Homo sapiens: one gene and its partners. The protein of the gene in region 1 purifies or fractionates together with the protein of each later gene. This does not show direct contact. Each region holds a gene or a part of one and is shown in the gene's direction. Other genes may lie near its edges. The genes, in order: CIMAP1A, PKLR, ANKRD50 and MMADHC.

Evidence for each region.
Region 2: the proteins of CIMAP1A (region 1) and PKLR purify together in Homo sapiens (affinity purification with mass spectrometry; one large-scale study listed by BioGRID and IntAct). This does not show direct contact.
Region 3: the proteins of CIMAP1A (region 1) and ANKRD50 purify together in Homo sapiens (affinity purification with mass spectrometry; one large-scale study listed by BioGRID and IntAct). This does not show direct contact.
Region 4: the proteins of CIMAP1A (region 1) and MMADHC purify together in Homo sapiens (affinity purification with mass spectrometry; one large-scale study listed by BioGRID and IntAct). This does not show direct contact.

What each region holds. Positions count from the first base shown.
Region 1 is NC_000011.10:195,319-200,339, forward strand, and holds CIMAP1A (ciliary microtubule associated protein 1A), read left to right. Parts: upstream 1-1,442; 5' UTR 1,443-1,728; intron 1,729-1,978; 5' UTR 1,979-1,986; coding exon 1,987-2,095; intron 2,096-2,242; coding exon 2,243-2,443; intron 2,444-2,880; coding exon 2,881-2,982; intron 2,983-3,145; coding exon 3,146-3,267; intron 3,268-4,050; coding exon 4,051-4,191; intron 4,192-4,625; coding exon 4,626-4,715; 3' UTR 4,716-4,940; downstream 4,941-5,021. UniProt on the Homo sapiens protein: Outer dense fibers are filamentous structures located on the outside of the axoneme in the midpiece and principal piece of the mammalian sperm tail. May help to maintain the passive elastic structures and elastic recoil of the sperm tail.
Region 2 is NC_000001.11:155,287,762-155,291,498, reverse strand, and holds the end of PKLR (pyruvate kinase PKLR), read left to right. Parts: intron 1-820; coding exon 821-927; 3' UTR 928-2,206; downstream 2,207-3,737. Other genes in the region: HCN3 (potassium/sodium hyperpolarization-activated cyclic nucleotide-gated channel 3), read right to left, coding at 3,036-3,718. UniProt on the Homo sapiens protein: Pyruvate kinase that catalyzes the conversion of phosphoenolpyruvate to pyruvate with the synthesis of ATP, and which plays a key role in glycolysis.
Region 3 is NC_000004.12:124,663,214-124,668,489, reverse strand, and holds the end of ANKRD50 (ankyrin repeat domain-containing protein 50), read left to right. Parts: intron 1-975; 3' UTR 976-4,442; downstream 4,443-5,276.
Region 4 is NC_000002.12:149,573,794-149,578,384, reverse strand, and holds part of MMADHC (cobalamin trafficking protein CblD), read left to right. Parts: intron 1-1,842; coding exon 1,843-1,948; intron 1,949-2,543; coding exon 2,544-2,674; intron 2,675-4,591. UniProt on the Homo sapiens protein: Involved in cobalamin metabolism and trafficking. Plays a role in regulating the biosynthesis and the proportion of two coenzymes, methylcob(III)alamin (MeCbl) and 5'-deoxyadenosylcobalamin (AdoCbl). Promotes oxidation of cob(II)alamin bound to MMACHC.

The sequences.
Region 1 (5,021 bases):
GTGTCGAGCCCCAAGAGGACCCCTGACAAGGCCAAGAAAAAGGTACACCCATGTCCAAGGGGGTTGGGAGCCGCAGGTGAGCAGCCTCTGAGGTCAGCCAGGGCAGCCCCAGCGCCCACACTGACTCACACCCACCACAACCAGCACAGACCCTGATCCTGACCCTGGATCCCAGACTCTCCCACAGCCAGAACCTTCCAGCATTTCAGCTGCCCAATCTATGGTCTCTTCTGGGGGCACAGCTGAGTGGAACCGCCCCATCCTTGGCCACCCTGGGTGCTGAGCCCTGACACTTCACTGCCCCGGCCCTCCTCTCCACACCTCTGTCCTGTCTGAGCCTGGCAAGGGGGCCATGCGGTGCTGTCGGCTCTGTGCTCTGTCCCACCTGCCTACATGGTATCTGCCTGGATTTCCATTTGGCTGAGGGAGCCCTAGGGAGGGGGCCCTGGAGGACTTGGTTACAGGGGACCTGGTGAGGGGACCCAGTGAGGGGGACTTCATGGGTGGGTGCCTGGTTGAGGGGACCTGGTGAAAGAAACATGGTGAGGGGGCCTGGTGAGGGGTGGTCTGGTGAGGGAACTTAGGGAAACCTGGTGAGGAGGACCTGGTGAGGGGACATGGGGGGGACCTTGGTGAGGGGACCTGGTGAGGGGACATAGGGGGACCTTGGTGAGCGGACCTGGTGAGGGGACATGGGGGGGACCTTGGTGAGGGGACCTGGTGAGGAGGACATGGGGGGGACCTTGGTGAGGGGACCTGGTGAGGGGACATGGGGGGGACCTTGGTGAGGGGACCTGGTGAGGGGACCTGGTGAGGGGACATAGGGGGGGACCTTGGTGAGGGGACCTGGTGAGGGGACATGGGGGGGACCTTGGTGAGGAGGACCTGGTGAGGGGACATGGGGGGGACCTTGGTGAGGGGACCTGGTGAGGGGACATGAGGGGGACCTTGGTGAGGGGACCTGGTGAGGAGGACATGGGGGGGACCTTGGTGAGGGGACCTGGTGAGGGGACATGGGGGGGACCTTGGTGAGGAGGACCTGGTGAGGGGACATGGGGGGGACCTTGGTGAGGGGACCTGGTGAGGGGACATGGGGGGGACCTTGGTGAGGGGACCTGGTGAGGGGACATGGGGGGGACCTTGGTGAGGGGACCTGGTGAGGGGACATGGGGGGGACCTTGGTGAGGGGACCTGGTGAGGGGACCTGGTGAGGAGGACATGGGTGGGGAGCCTTGGTGAGGGGACCTGGTGAGGAGGACCTGGTGAGGGGAACATGGTGAGGGGAACATGGTCAGGGGGACTTATAGGGGTGTCCTGTTGGGGGGACCTGGTGGTGAGATCTGGTGAGGGGATCAAAGGCAGAAGCCATTGTCTTGGTCACATAGACAGAATCTAGAACCTGTCATCCCACAGAGCCACATTCTAGAGTTTAGAGTGGGGGACCTCTCCCCAATTCTGTAAGCCCATGAGGAGAGAGGAAGGCCTTTCTCTCCATGCTCCTTTTGCGGGAACTCCCTGGCACCAAGGCCAGGGGGGAAAGGACAGTCTCTGATGAGGATGGGTCTCTAGGCTGCTCTGAGTGCTGTCCCTGCACTGAAGAAGTTATAGTTCCCTCCCAGGCGGCCCCCTCCCTGCCCCTCAGCTCAGCCTCAATCAAGAAGTTCCCCATCTTTGACCACTCCAAGTAGGAGAAACCGGCCCAGGGCTCCCTTAGAGCCGAGAACAGTGGTGAGTTAAGGGCCAGCATGGACAGCAACTCTGGGTTACAGTTAAGCTGGTGAGGAGCTCACAGACCCATGCAGAAAGCTCCTACTGTCCCTGACTCCTGGCTCCCAGCTGGAGATCCCCACTGATGCTGCAGCAGGTTCCGCAGGTCTTACCCTTCAGTGTCAGCAAGAGCAGGGTCGGGGACATCAGGGGCCGGCATGGGACAGGGCCGGGCCTCCCAGCACCTGGTAACCCTCTCACTTACGGACAGAGCTGGCCATGACGGAGGAGGTATGGATGGGTACCTGGAGGCCCCATCGCCCCCGGGGACCCATCATGGCCCTCTACAGCAGCCCTGGACCCAAGTACCTGATTCCACCAACAACAGGTAAGAGCCTGAGAGACTGTGGGAGAGGGTCAGGAGCCAGGCGGGCAGGTGGGGGTCCCGGGAAGGGCCTGGGGCTCAATCCCTGACTCCCAGCGGGGAGAAGGGCAGGTCAGGCTCCGGGCTGCTCAGGGCCCATTGCGTCCACAGGCTTCATGAAGCACACGCCCACCAAGCTGCGTGCACCGGCCTACAGCTTCCGTGGGGCCCCCATGCTCCTGGCAGAGAACTGCTCCCCAGGGCCCCGTTACAATGTAAACCCCAAGATACTGAGGACTGGCAAGGACCTTGGCCCTGCCTACTCCATCCTGGGGCGCTACCAAACCAAGACCATGCTGACTCCTGGTCCAGGTTAGTGACCCTGTCTCAGGCTCCTGCCCTGCGCAGCCTCAGGCCTGCCCCTCCCTGCTGGGTGCCCCTAACCTCATGTCAGCAAGGGTGTGGGAGAGCTCAGCCATCCTGGCCCCTCCCGTCCCATCTTTCTCTCTTGAGGGGTCACCATCGTGCCTGGGCAGAGAAGACTCTGGCCCAAGAGTCCAGCTCCGACCTGGACCTTTCTCTGCCAGGCCGACGTCAGACCCCACTCTCCCTGCTCAAAAATAGCCTTTGTCTCACCAGCCCTGAAGTCAGCATTTCCATCCTGGACACCCCCTGACCCGACTTGGTCACCACCTGTGTTGGAGCCCAGAGGCCCCACGCCTAGAATGTTGGGGAGTCCTCCTTGAGCCCCCAAACTGGGCTGCATACCCACCTGCTTGTCCCAGCAGCCCCCTTGGCTCCTTGTCCAGGTGACTACTTTCCAGAGAAATCCACCAAGTACGTGTTCGACTCAGCACCCAGCCACTCCATCTCTGCCCGGACAAAGGCATTCCGAGTGGACAGCACCCCAGGTCCGCAGCAGCCCCAACCATCCTCAGCCAAATGGACCTGGGGATCCTGGGTGGGGTGTGTGACATGGGGCAGCCCGACGGCTGATCTCCAGAGTTGGGGGAGAGCCCCAGGGAAGGAGCAGTGGGCCCTGTTCCGGCCTGAGGCTCCACGTCCACCCTGCAGGCCCCGCTGCGTACATGCTGCCCATGGTAATGGGGCCCAATACCGTCGGCAAGGCCTCCCAGCCCTCCTTTTCCATCAAGGGCCGCAGCAAGCTGGGCGGCTTCAGCGACGACCTACACAAGGCAAGGGCCACCCCAACTGAGAACAGAGAATCACCCCCAACCATCTGAACCCTCCCCCGGAACCCAGGACCCACCAGTTCGGCCCTGCCTTGCCAATGCCCCTCAGCCCCCTCAGCCCTTCACCCTCTGGGCACCTGCCACGTGCTGGGGTTACACTGCAGTGGTGAGGAGGGGCAGGCAACAGGCCAGAAGGGAGACGCCCTGGCCCCAGCATGGACCGTGCTGAGGACAAGAGATGGGGTTTAGGAAGCACTGTCTGGAGAGAGAGAGGCAATCTTAGATAGGGTAGCATGGAAAGAAGAGGAGGAGGAAAAAATAAACCATGAGCTATTTGGGGGAGGAGGGTCCTGGTTTCAGAAACAGCCAGTGCAAAGCCCCTGGGTGGCACATGCCTGAGAGCTTGAGGGGCCTGAGATGGGGAAGCAGCATCATGGCACCCAACAGCCCTCGTCCATGTTGATTTTGCCAGCCCCAGGCCCTCAGGTCCAACAGGGCAGCAACAGCCTCTCTCACACACGCTCAGCGATGTTCCCAGGACTGGCACACACTGGGGATGCCATTGCCAGCGTGAGGCTGAAATGGAGGAAGTGACCCCCACATGAGGTACCCCACAAGCAGTGGGGTGTGATCTCCACAGTGTGACAGAAGACAGAAGGGGACCTTGATGCACGGGCACCAACTTGTAGCTGACCCTGTTGACTCAGAGCCTGAGTTTGCTCCCTGTCCTCTAGGGCCACACGCCCTGGGTAGGCCGAGTTGGTCTGAGCCTCCTTTACCTCTCAGACCCCAGGTCCCGCAGCCTACCGCCAAACTGATGTGCGGGTGACCAAGTTCAAGGCTCCGCAGTACACCATGGCTGCCCGTGTGGAGCCCCCAGGGGACAAGACCCTCAAGCCAGGACCAGGCGCCCACAGCCCTGAGAAGGTCCAGGAAGAGCACAGCTCAGAGGGGTCAGGGTGGGGCAGGGTCCTGGCCCAGAGGGATGTGTAGGAAAGAGCAGGGAGGGGGGCTGGGACACAGACGAGGGGAAACAGGGTCAGGCTATGGAAGGACACAGCCAAGAAGGGGTGGAGGGGTGGGGTGGGGATGGGAGGCACCTGCACCCTGAGGACCCTGTACATTTCCAGCACTAGGCCCACAGGTAACCCTTCAGGGACATGGAAGCAGAGACCCTGCCCTTTTCCCTAGACACTGTGACAGCTACTACTGCTGAGTGCTCTGTGTTCAAACCTGGGAGCATAGCTTCTGGCCACCTTGGCCCCAGGTTCAGGAAGGACAGCAGCCCAGCCCCAGCCAGGGCAGAGACCTGCAGGTGGGGGCAGGGGTGCTGGTTCCTATCATAGCCCCTCCTCTCCCAGGTGACCCTGACCAAGCCCTGCGCCCCAGTTGTCACCTTCGGCATCAAACACTCTGATTACATGACTCCCCTGCTGGTTGATGTGGAATAACGCCAGCCCTGCTGTGCCCCATCACACCCGGCATCTACACAAGATCCGCCGGGCCACAGAGCTCGAGGCTGTCTTCACCAGCTGGGCTGGGCCAGCCTGGCCCTGCAGGGCAGAGCACGCTTGTTTGGGCAATTGTAATCAGTTACTTTTTTTCTATGCTATTTTACCATTTTTTAATCTTGTTTTCTGCTGTGCCCAAATTATTAATAAATCAGATTGCATTAATAAGGGTTTGTCTTGGTGGAAGGATCAAGCATTTCCAGAAAGGAGCCCCCGTAGGCTGTCAGCACTTGCCCACAAGGGGTC
Region 2 (3,737 bases), on another chromosome or scaffold:
TTTTGAGAGAGAGTCTTGCTCTGTCGCCAGGCTGGAGTGCAGGGGTACGATCTCGGCTCACTGCAATCTCTGCCTCCTGGGTTCAAGTGATTCTCCCACCTCAGCCTCCTGAGTAGCTGGGACTACAGGCATGCGCCACCACGCCTGGATAATTTTTGTATTTTTAGTAGAGACAGGGTTTCACCATGTTGGCCAGGATGGTCTCAATGTCTTGACCACGTGATCCGCCCGCCTCGGACTCCCAGAGTGCTGGGATTACAGGCGTCAGCCACCGTGCTGGCATCTCTTACACCTTTAATATACTGCAGTGGTCACATTCCCTGCATGCCACCCGTGGGACATACTTCACTGCCTCATTCCCTACAGGATGGCCTTGATGTGGTGAAAGGTGGTGGCTGGTTCTCGTTACAGGGCTGGCCTGGTCCCTCAATGACTAATTTTCTTTCTTTTCTTCTTTTATTATTATTATTATTATTATTATTATTATTATTATTATTATTATTATTATTTTGAGATGGAGTCTTGCTCTGTCCCCAGGCTGGAGTGCAGTGGTGTGATCTCGGCTCACTGCAACCTCTACCTCCTGAGTTCAAGCGATTCTCCTGCCTCAGCCTCCCTAGTAGCTGGGATTACAGGCATGCGCCACCACACCCAGCTAATTTTTGTATTTTCAGTAGAGACAAGGTTTCACCATGTTGGCCAGGCTGGTCTCAAACTCCTGACCTCAGGTGATCCTCCTGCCTTGGCTTCCCAAAGTGATGGGATTACAGGTGTGAGCCACCACACCTGTCCAATGATTTGTTTTCTTTCCCTCCCCCAGGAAAGCTCCGTGGCTTCCTCCGTGTTGGAGACCTGGTGATTGTGGTGACAGGCTGGCGACCTGGCTCCGGCTACACCAACATCATGCGGGTGCTAAGCATATCCTGAGACGCCCCTCCCTCCTCTGGCCCAGCCTACCCTTGTACCCCATCCCTTCCTCCCCAGTCTACGTTCTCCAGCCCACACCCCTCCAAAGCCCCACCTTTAAGTCCTCTCTTCTCTATTCCTGACCCTCCCTACCTGAGGCCTATCTGAGACTATAACTGTCATCTAGCCCCTTCGAGGTTGCCCCTTCCCCATCTCCATTTCACACAGGTCCTGAAAGTCTGTGTCCAATTATGCACTGGCCACCCAACAGCACCAATTGTACATTCCCTGCATCCAATCTGCTCAGCAGGCCCTAAGATGCCTTGAGTCTTTAATCCCAGTTTGGCTGGTTAATTCCATAACCCCAGGCATCCCATCCCTTGGGGTGGGGGAGAGGGGAGACAGGGCAATCTTGTCCACAGTCTCCCATTCTCATATGTAGCCCTCATGATAATCTGGGCATCTCGTGCCAGGGCAGGCTACCCCTTCATGGTGACTAACAGTTACATGAAAGTCCACGCTTTTGGGAAAACTGGGTGGGATGGATGCTGGGGAGAAGTGAGGGCTGGGCAGCTGATTTTGTCACTGTCTTCACAACCTCCGTGCTGGGCTTGTAGACCACTGTCCTGGCTGCTCTCATGCCTGCCTGATACCCTGCTTGGTCAAATCCCCGGCTGCTTCCTTCTGCACCCAGAAATTCCTTCCCACTCATGTTGTTCCCACACACAAACCAAGAGCCAAAAATGAGTGTGTCTATTTTATATTTAAACCCAGCTGTTTGGAAGCAATTATAAAACTTCTCCCACACACCAAGAACCCCAGAACTCCCCACCCAGAAGGAAAGGAGACTTAGGGTCCTGGTCCCACAGTCTTTAATGCTGTAGAGTAGGAGAGGGGACAGGCAGAGTGAGGGTGGTAAAGGACTACTCTTGTCCCTGAGAAGGCAGAGGTGCTGGCTGGCCTGCCCTTCCCCAGGCTTGGATACCTTGGGCCTTTCCCTTATTCCTGCACCAACAGCAAACTCAGAAGGAAAAAACAAAACAAAACTCTAAAGGTAAACGCGGTCCTTCTCCCTCTCTCATGTGGCTCCTCCTGCCCCTACCTGGGAGAAGGTTCAAGTATTGCGCTGATGGGTTTGGGCAAGGACCACAGAGGCTGGCATGGAGAGGCCCTGCCTCCTCCTACTCCTCCTGTCTCCTTACCTGAAAAGGAGGGGAGGGATGGATAAAGGAATGGGTAAACAAAATTAATTGGTAACACATAAAGTTAGTAAATGAATAAATACAATTAAATAAATGAATAAATAAACAAGCGAAGAAAAAAATATCACACAAGGATTCAGCCATTTGCCCCTCCACCGGGGGGGATCTAGGCTGGCATATTAATAAGGAGGTGCCAACTACCCCTTAACTTTTAGGGGGTCACGACTGGGGCAGAGGGTACAGGGAAGAGGAAGCTCGCAGTTTACAAAAAGATGGTCTACCACAGGACAGAGACTGCAGGGAACTTAGAAGTATGTTCCCACTCAGAGGGTAGACACAGAGTGTCCACAGGTGGCAGTGAGCGGGTAAAAGTGGATACCCACACTCAGGACCCAAGACATCTGCTGACAGCAATGGGGGCACAGGTGACTGGCAGTGCCTGGCTATGCTACAGGAACAGGAAGATAACCAGACCGGGCAGAACCTGCAGGATCATTGGCAGGGAAACAGAGACATCTAGTTACTTGGCAGTGATGGCAGTGGCAAGTACTTGTGCTTAGTAAAGGTGGGGTCATGGGCCTGGGCCTGCACCTGGCAGGACCATAGCCAAGGGAATATCCTTGTCAGAGGGTTTTGAGTCACTTCTACTTGGCAGTGGAGACATACAGCGCCTGGCATATTACCTTGAACATGGTAGCTGCTCAGTACACATGATGAACGGGTGAATGGATTATGATGGGACAAGCTACAGGATTCTTGAGCTGAGGACACAGAGACCGTCTTCATGGCAGTATGCGGAATGTCCGCACAGGGTCGACATTTCCATGGGGCAATGTTTCAGGTCCCCATGGCCTTCCCCAAGAGGCATCTGCCCTTGGGTACATACTACTGCACCCCAAGAACTAAGGCTGGATGTACTCAAAGGTTTTACATGTTGGCAGAAAGCTGGAGACCCCGGGGTGTGGCTGGCTCAGGCACTGGTGGCCTGGGGGGCTGGGCTGTCCTTGGAGGTTTGGCCAGGAGCCCTGAGGGAGGCAGCCGCTCACTTCCTGATCCCTTACGCCCAGGAGAGCCATCGCCTGTTGCCCGCTGAGGCAGAGAGGGTTGGGAGGCTGAGAGTGGGCGGCCCCGAGGTCCTAGCCGCCGTCCACCTCCTCCTGGAGGGGGACCCAGCAGGGAGACCTGGGAGCGCCCTGCCCGGGATAGGCTGGCGTGCAGGGTTCGGGCAGGTGGGGCGGGCAGGCGGGAGGTGGATGCCCATGGGCCAGCTCGGACGGGCACCAGCGGGGAAGCTGGAGAGCCTGCTGAGCGCCAAGCAGAGCGAGCAAGGAGGGTGGCTGGAGAGTCAGGGGAGAGGGGCAGAGGGCCCCGCTGATGAGTCAGGGCAATGGCCACATTGGAGGTCACAGCAGCTGCCTGAAGGGGCGCATGTACCAGTGGCTCCCACAGTACTGGCTTTCCACTAAGCTGAGCTCCTGTGCTCGGGGCCCGACCCCGAACACCCCGAGCCATGTCTCTGTCATGTTGCACCAAGTGCTGCTCCATGATGCCACCACTGCTGCCTGGACTTGGCTCGGAGCGCTTCCGCTGCAGTATGGAATTCTTCTTGCCTAGAAGTTGTACCGGGAG
Region 3 (5,276 bases), on another chromosome or scaffold:
GCTGTTTCAAACTCATCTTTTTGGTTTGAATGCAATAATGTCTGTAGCACATAGTAGATAGTAAATATTAATTTCATTCCTTTTCACTCAGAAAGAAGTCAAAAACTTAGTAGAAGGTAGTTTTTATGATGACAGATCTCTTGAGACTCTTCTAAGTAATGTTTTCACACATAAGGCATAGACGTGAAAAATGATAAATGGATGTTTTTGCAATATTGGTATTTAGGGCACTTTATACCTGGATAAAATAGTCATATTTGTTAAATAAATTTTTTTTTCTCCTTCCTGTAACAAAGGATACTTCATTAATAATATAGGGGATGTTAGTGGGAAAATAGGTATGTAAGTTTTATATTTTAGATACTTTTTCAGAAGCTCATTTCCTGTATTGGAGATAAATCTGAAGATTTTATTAGGGGTCTTTCCTAGCATACACTGCAGCTATATTTATCCCACTTTGCTTAATGATTTTTCTTCCTCTAACAAAGTTATATATACTCTTTCCTTTTTGCTGCTTCTGTCTTTGTAAATATATTTTAGGGATATAATAGGTGAAACACTATTATAGATAAATTCCTCATATATTCTAATAATAAACAGCCTTCAATGTGAATCTAGGGGTGACCAAATGTCATTCAAAAATAATTTGAATAAAGTACTTAATTCAGTCCCCAAATGCAATTCGTTTTTAAAATAATTAGTTCTGATGGTGCACCCTTTCAACTCTCATGATATCTGTTTTAAAGGCAAAATATAAATACGTATTAAAAATGAAACACCAGAATTAAGGTAAACATTTTGTGGAATTTAAAAAGTGGCTTATAAGTTAAATAATAGTTAAGTCTGCTTTGTGCTTTGCATGGTAAATATATAGATAAAGATATATAGAGGTAAATGTATTAAATAAAGTTTTAAAATGATATGTAGCTGTATAATACAATGTAGAAAATAATTTTTTTTTAACTTTTGCATTAGTTTCCTATTCTGTGAAACAGAAGACATTGTGATGGAGTGGTTCTTCAGCTACTGGATGGAAACATATGCCTGTTGATTTGCTGAAAAAACAAAAAAAATGAAGAATGTGATCTCTGCAGTACAGTTACCTTAATTACTGTAATGTGCCTAAATAGTAAGGCTGCCTTCTCAATGTAACCCTCTGTGCTTAAAAAATTTCATTTTGTGTGCTTTGTATTCACTACACAGGAATAAGCACTTTTTAAAAATGCAGATACATACTGCAGTTCCCTGATAAAAGCTGAAAAGAAAATTTGAGTATTTTAAGTTAAGATGTGATAAAAAATGTGCATGTGCCATAATCAAATATATATGAAAAGGCAGTGTTCCTTGTATTTATTTTTTTTTCTTTTTGTGGCAAAAGAAACTTAAACATACTGTTTCAGTCACATTGCATTGTAGTGTATGGCCTGTTTCTTGTATCTTTAAAGACGTTGCTCAATAAAACAAATCTTGCAACTGTTCTATGTTCACTACACCTTCAGCATTGGATAAAAATCATTTTCTATATAAATATCACATTGAAATGAAAAAATGATTTCTTGGCAGTTTAAAAAAAATATTTTATAGTAGTTTAGGGAGCTGCTTTAAGTAGTTTAAATCTGGATTTTCCCAGTAGAATTCTTCTCATCTCTGGCTAAACATGTCAGAACAAACAACCAACCAGTCTGTAGGCAGAACAAAGTCCTATTTCATCCGCTGGGATACAATTTCATCTTCCATTCACTTTGTCATTCCACCTCTAAGAAGACAGACTATCATTCCTGAGGCATGAAAATTCTCAGGGACAAAGCCATGCCTCAGTCACATGTGTGTGCAGAGAGAAATGCACCTGTCTATCTAAGGGTAGATTTTTGATCCCTGAATAATTCATTGACTAAACTGACCTCTTCCTCCTGGCTAAATAAATTAATTTTGCTGGCTTCTCTCTCAGCGGTTTCTATTTTGTAAATTGCTGCATGACCAAAATAGCCCCACTCAAAATCAATTGGATTAATTTTAATGGTTTGGTTGGATGAATATTCTGGATGAATATAAAATGTGCTGCCCTTCACAGATGACACCACTCCCCTGTCAATCATAGCACATGTGTACTTTTTATTGTTACTTAATAGTGATGGATTTGCACTTTTCTATCCTCATACTCTTTCCTGTTTTCTTCTTTGTACAATTGCATGCAGGAGGGCTGGATGCCAGGGTTAAGAGAGAAATTCATGACAAGGAAGGTAAAATTGGTTCAAATGAGCATGTGTCCCACAGCCTTAGTCTCCTTACTCTTAAATCAGTGGAGCTGTAGCTTAGATGGGTCGTTTATATGTCTGGAAAAGTTGTCATAACAGTTTAGAAGCCAAGGTTGTGGATTTGATCTTAGAATGGGCCTGTTAATCTTATAGAACCCAGAAATTCTGTTCTTTTCATGTACTGTTGATGAGGAATGAGGAAAGAGAATTTGGAGATTCAGCACAAAACCATTGCTACTTCTAGAACAAAATCTTTAGAATATGTCCTAATAACAAAGGTCAGTAATGTCATCTTCATATATGAAGGACACATGTGATACATTGTTCGTGGAAATAGAAATGTATAATTATGATAAATGTTTCACTTGAATCTTATTGTAAGGCTTTTCTTGCTTTTATTTTTTAAAGTCAGCAAAACTCATTTTGTCTGTCATCTATAAGTCATAGTGAGGACTACGAGATAAGTTGATAAGTTCAATTGATATTAAGGTGACATGGCAATATTAATAACTCAAATGTGAATGTTTCAAGTATTGAATTCTTGTCCCTATGGGACATTTATTAAATAAAATTAATGGGACTCTTGCAAAGTAGCCTTAAAAGTGTTAATGAGTCTATTAATAAATATGAACACATACTATTATTAGAACCAACTTTACTCATATCTCAAATACAGTACATTTACATTACTGTAGAGGATGAAGCTCTAATTTCTATTACATGTAATTTTCTTTAGAAAGAGAACCCTGAAAGCTGCCAGTTTTTCTATTAACTTTGAATTATTGAAATTGTATTTATTTAATTTTATTGTTTTTACAAAATTGCACCTTGTGTCCAAAGGGCGAAGATATGACATTGCATAAGGGATTTATGTTTTTCAAAGAGCTAACTGTTTTCATATCCATACTATATACACTTGAAGCAATTGGTAGGAAGAGAACCTATTGGAAAAATACGATTTTCAAAAGTAAGTATTCCTCGGGATGTTTTTATATAAATTATGTTTTGGAATAGAACATAAATGACTTTGAGTTAGGATAAGGATGATAGGATGGGTGCTGGAGATGCCCTGCCTTGCTTATTTGTTTCTGTGGGGGATTTAATACTATAAATGAAAATGGCTTCTGCTCCATTAAAAAGTAAAAATTGTCCTCCAAATATAAAACTCCTTAATAGATATTTTTGAAATTAAAATCTTTAAATTTTATAAATCAGCTGTTGCCACTACACAACTATGATGGCATGTGCTTATAACATTTTTATAACATTCCGTCTGTGTCTATTCCCTAAATATCATGAGTTTATAATAAGGAAAGTGATAAAAATACAGTAATGAAATAAAAATCTGAATGTTTCTAAGAAAGGTTTTGGAAGGAAAAATGACCTGAAATCAGTGCGTACTGCAAAGTACAGCCAATAATTTTTGTTCTTTGTTTTCACCCCCACCCTCACTGGAATTCTCACCAAAAATAGTTTGATACTTAAAAAACAGAAGTAAATACTTTTCTCAATATTGTTTTGGCTATGCAAATATTTGTTTTGCTTAATGTCCTCCATTTACACTTCTCAGCAAATGTAGTTGCAAACAAATGCTTTCTTTTTATTTTTCCCTTGGTTTGAGGTATGTAAATAGCCAAAAATGTACATTGAATTTCACATTGTAAAAGTTTTATTTTATCCCTTGTATGATATTACTCAAAAAATCCCTGTGTATATGAAAGTGCATAATAAATATATTTGCTTTACAGAGAAGATCTTGTTTTAATTTTGTCCTTGAACCAGTAGAACATGCATGATATGCATATAGCATAAACAACTGTTAGTTGTTTTAAGTTATTATCTTAAATAAATCCTGAGCAAATGAATTTGGAAACATTTTGCAAAGAAGAAAGTGAAATATAACACTGTCCAAAGGAAGGTAGAAAAACAAAGATTTACTGTTTATGTCTTCCTAAGCCTTTTTAAAGACTTAATGTTCTTTTCCCCCCCGTGACTGATTATATACTATATCACACCATGTCAGGTTTTGTGCCTCTGAGAATTGCAGTAATCCAATAACTTTTGTATATGTGTGCTCCTTGATCATCAGAATATTATGGCCATCTTATGGCGGATATTTTGGGAGTTTATTGCAAACATGGTCATTCATTTTCTAAATAAAATTTGTGTGTTTCTTCACTCAGTAAACTTGCGTCACTTCTTCATGACCTCTTTCCCCACCAGAACACAGCATACACATGCTGTATGTATACATACACACAAATGGCTTTTTGAATTTGTGGGTTCCACATCCCTGGATGCAACCAATCTCAGATAAAATATTCGGAAAGAAAATTCTAAAGTTCTGAAAAACAAATTTGCTATGTGCCAAGTACTACCTGAGTCCACCTGAATGAAGTGATGTGTAGGCATTGTATTAGGTATTGTAAGTAATCTAGAGATGATTTAAAGTATACAGAGCATATGCGTAGGTTATATATAAATGTTGTGCCATTTCATATAAGGGACAGGAGTGTCTGAGGATTTTGGTATCCAAGAGGAGTCCTGGAAACAATCTCCCTATGTTTACTAATGAATAACTATCCTATTACTCCAAAGAGAGGTTTCTAAAAAGGCCAACAAGGTATCTTCTGTTCTGTAATTTCATGAAAATTGTAGTGTTCTGCAGTTATATTTTTTATAAATTTGTTGAATTAATATAAATCTTATTCTAAAAAATTAATAATATAACAATGTGTTTAAACACAAATGTATGGTATACATAGAAGAATTTAAAAACAGACCGGTAGCTAAATAAACTTACATGGAGTTTTCTAGCTAATGGTCCAAGGAAATACACTGTGAGAACTTGGTGATAATTAATGTTTTCACTCCTTTGCCCTAGCAGTTGGAAGGATTACAACTACAGTCGTCCCACTGTATCCTGGGTGGATTGGTTCCAGGAACCCAGGTGGGTACTAAAATCTTTGTATGCTCAAGTCCCACAGTTGGCCTCCTGTATTTACAGATTCTGCATCTCTC
Region 4 (4,591 bases), on another chromosome or scaffold:
AACTCCTGTATAACCAATACTATTAGTGGAATAACCATCCTCCCCTCTCTCGTAAGATAAAACTTATAGCACCAACCTTCTTTCTCCATCATATCACTATAAATAATATAAAAATCACATCGCTTTTATCTCTCAAGTTGCTCCTAAAATATTAGTGTCCTTTCAATTCTTTGCCAGAGTTCAAGGCCTCTTTGTCTTACCTGGATTTTTAGAGTCATTGTAGCATGACACACAATGAAGATAGAATAAATCTGGGTTCAAAGATTGACTCTGCAACTTACTTAATTTTGTGACCTCGAGGAAATTACTTAACCTTTCTAAGCTCCTGTTTCTTTGTTGTTGTTGTTGTTGTTTGGTTTGTTTGTTTTGAGATGAAGTCTTGCTCTGTCACCAGGCTAGAGTGCAGTGGTGCGATCTTGGCTCACTGCAACCTGCAACTCCCTAGTTTAAGTGATTCTCCTGCCTCAGCCTCCCGAGTAGCTGAGATTACAGGCGTGCACCACCACACCCAGCTGATTTTTGTATTTTTAGTAGAGGTGGGGTTTCACCATGTTGGCTAGGATGGTCTCGATCACCTGACCTTGTGATCTGGCCGCCTTGGCCTCCCAAAGTTCTGGGATTACAGGCGTGAGCCAGTGTGCCTGACCACTCCTGTTTCTTTATAAATGTCACATGAGGATAGTAATAATCTCTAGCCCACAATATTTTTTTTTCTTTCTTTTTTTTTGAGACAGAGTTTTGCTCTGCAAATCTTGGCTCACTGCAACCTCTGCCTCCTGGATTCAAGCAATTCTCGTGCCTCAGCCTCCCAACGAGCAGGGATTACAGGCATATGCCACCATTCCTGGCTAATTTTTGTATTTGATATTGCTGTTTCTCATTGCCTGTAGACTAAAGTCCAAATTTCTTAATGCTGAATAAATGGCATTTCATAATTTTGATCCCTTACCTTTCCCACCTTATCTGCCACTACTTCCTATTCCCTCTGCACTCCAGCCACAACATACTTGCCATTTTTCTTGAATACACATTCTGTGTCTTTGTACTTTATTATCTTTTGCTGGACTATTTTTCCTCCTGAATTCCTAACCTCTGTACCAGCTATTTTTTACCTGTCAGACATAACACATCAACTAACTTGTAGCTCAAATATCACCATTTCAATCATTTCCTGATTCCTCCCAGCAAAGTAAGTTTCTTCCTCATCTATGCCCCTGGAAGACTTTATTCATAACTCTGTAGCACTTGTCATATTTAATTGCATTTATTTGCTTGTACTTATTTTTTTTTATTAGGCCTGAAATAGCTGAGAGTGAGGACTGAATTTTTTACCATTGCAGCGCCTGCTCCTGTCATAGTGCCTGATGTATAGTAGGCTCTCAGTAAATTTCAGTTGAATAAAAGCCTCTAAGCTCTTCCTGTAGGAGAGGCTGTATTATTTAGTCATGTATCTTGTAAGTTAGTATCATTATCCCCCTTTTACAGATTATAGAAGAAAAGATAATTAAATATTACCATAAAATAGAAGAGGTAACATTATGAGACACATTATGGCATTTTAGTTACTTAGCCAATTTCTGTTTATACCAAGTTTTAGAATATCAGTATATTTATATATTCATGCTCTGCTGTATTCACATTTTTTGAACTTCCAAATCTTATATTCATTGTAGAGAAAAGTTTGAGTAAATGAGAAAATGTTATTACCTCACCTCCCAGTTAGATTATAATTTTTTGTAAAAACAAACAAAAAGCTTTCTAAGGAAGACAGGTTTATAACAGGCAAGATACCGTTTTATTTGAACTCCAGATTTTGTTGACTTATATCCTTGTTCCCCTTAGGGTAATGATGCACCTGTTGAACAAGAAATTAACAGTGCAGAAACTTACTTTGAAAGTGCCAGAGTAGAGTGTGCAATACAGACATGTCCAGAATTGCTGCGAAAAGGTATGTCATGCTTTATACTTTGAAACACTGTTACTAATTTTTTTAATATGTTGAATAATGTACTCTATAGAAATTGGAACGCTGTATACCTTAATATTATATTTTACCGTATCTGGCTGGAAATGATTGCATGGCCAAGATAAAGGCTTTGAAATGTCCTGTGACATCTGACCTCATGCTGCCATTAGATAGGAAGAGTAAAATTTTTAATAACTTTTTTCCTAAGGCTAAATTAAAGTCATTTTTACTCCTGGGTGATTATTAGAGTTATAATTTTATGAGTTAATATAATACGGAAAAATCTTAACAGTAAGCATTTTTGAAAATTATATTAACCCCAAATAACGTGTAATCCTACTTACCCTTCAGGATTGTTGGTAGTAATATTTCAGTTCATCCAACAAAAGCAGAAGTAAACAAAACTAAGTGAATTTTACCCTTTTCAAAAATAACATACATTTATAAAAATTAACTAATACCACAGTAATTTTACTTAATCAGCATTTTTCTAAAGAAGTACTTTTATCCTTCTTTAAAAATTTGTTCTTTAAAAATCAAATTCTTTTCTACCTGGAATGTTTATTCTTATTTGTAGATTTTGAATCACTGTTTCCAGAAGTAGCTAATGGCAAACTAATGATTCTGACTGTAACACAAAAAACTAAGAATGATATGACTGTTTGGAGTGAAGAAGTAGAAATTGAAAGAGAAGTGCTCTTAGAAAAGGTAATTCTTTCAATTGCTAATAATTTAATTTTATGGTCATTATTTAAGTAATAGTGAACCAATGTCTTAAAATGATGACTGTCATTTCCACCCTTTATTCATTTTCTGCCAAAGTATTATAATACTAAAGGACTTACATCTTTTTTGAGAGTAAAAGTGCAGCTTTTTAGTATCCTTAAAAGTTTAGATTCTGTTTATTACTTTCCTCAATTTATTTTTAAAAAGTCTATTTTGGAAAATTTGGTAAATGACAAAAAGGTAAAATTAACTCTTTATCCTTCTCCCCTCAGCCTCCCCCTCCCTCTCCTTCTCCATCTCCCCCTTCATCTCCCCATCTTCCCCTCCAAATCTATCCCCTTTCTCCTGGGCTTAGAACATGTCAAAATAAAGAGTGAAAATTATGCCAGTTCTCTCCAAGAGTAAACAGTAACAGTATGCAGTACAATAATAGTGTAATAATGTATACCCACATTTTTTTCTGTGGTTTGCTTTTAACCTAAAGTATGCTTTGACATGTTTCCATGCTTACACATAGATATATTTCATTCTTTATAAAATCTGCATAGTATTAATATCACAGGGTAAACCATAAACTTTTTAATTTATTTAAGAATTTTAACTGGGTGCAGTGGCTCACGCCTGTAATTCTAACACTTTGGGAGGCTGAGGCTGGAGGATTGCTTGAATCCAGGAGTTTGAGACCAACCTGGGCACTGTAGTGAGACCCTGTCTCTACAAAAAAAATTATCCAGGTTTAGTGGTGCGCACCTGTAGTCCCAGCTACTCTGGAGGCTGAGGTGGCGGATCACTGGAGCCTGAGAGGTCGAGGCTGTAGTGAGCCTTGATGGTGCTACTGCCCTTCAGCCTGAGCGACAAAGTGATACCTACCATCTCTTATAAAAGAAGTTTCTTAGTCATTTATAAGTTTAAAATCCAACTTTTGCTATTATAGGCAACAAGCAGTGACAGTCTTTTTACAAATACTTTTATGCATGCTAATATCTATAGATTCCTAAATAGAGAATTGCTGAATCAGTGTGTATCTACATTTTAAATTTTGATAAGACACTTCCAATTTGCCCATCAAAAAGACTGTTCTAGTATATAAGCTGTCATGCTAGCTTACCCTGGGTGTTAGCAGTTCTTTCCAACTCAGGTTAGCTAAGGGGCCCAAGTCACTAACTTGAGTTAAAAAATCCCTTTAGTGATTCCTGTGTAGGATGTTAGGAAGTATTTTATATTTGGGATTAGATGTATGGTCTTTATTTGTAAAAGTATATTGTAATTTACATATTCAACAATATTATAATTTCACATTTAAATGTCACATAACTGCTAATAGATTTCGTGTGGTTTTTAACAATCACAAGCATATTAGTTATATACTAATTAACAAGGGAGTTATAGAGAGTTATAGGATATTTTCTATTTACATATTAAAATAATGCTTAGTAAATATATACTCATCACTATCATTGAAGTGCTAGTATATTGTCACATGTATATTGCATTAGTGGTTCTAATTTTTGGTCAGTTTAAGATTCTGAACCTAATTTGATACTGACTCCAGTATAGTTCTAAGTTTCCTATAACCAGTTTGAATGGCAACGTGCTTCATCTTGAGAGTTTTAATTTTGTAATGACTGAAGCTATTTTATTTTCTGTGAAAAAAGATTTTTTTTTTTAAAGATTTCTTCATGATTATTTTGGAACCACACCTAGCTCTCCAAGTAAATATTTGATATTTTATGGTTTAAATCTGTTCTAATTTTTTCCAGCAGATGTCAGTGTTGGTGAACAGAAATCCTAAGAAAAATACTTCAGCTGGTTTTTTTGTTTTAATTTGAGATTCTTTCAGTTAACCTTTGTAAACATTTGATCGCATTTCATTGTTTTGCTCTCCTTGTAGTGTTTATG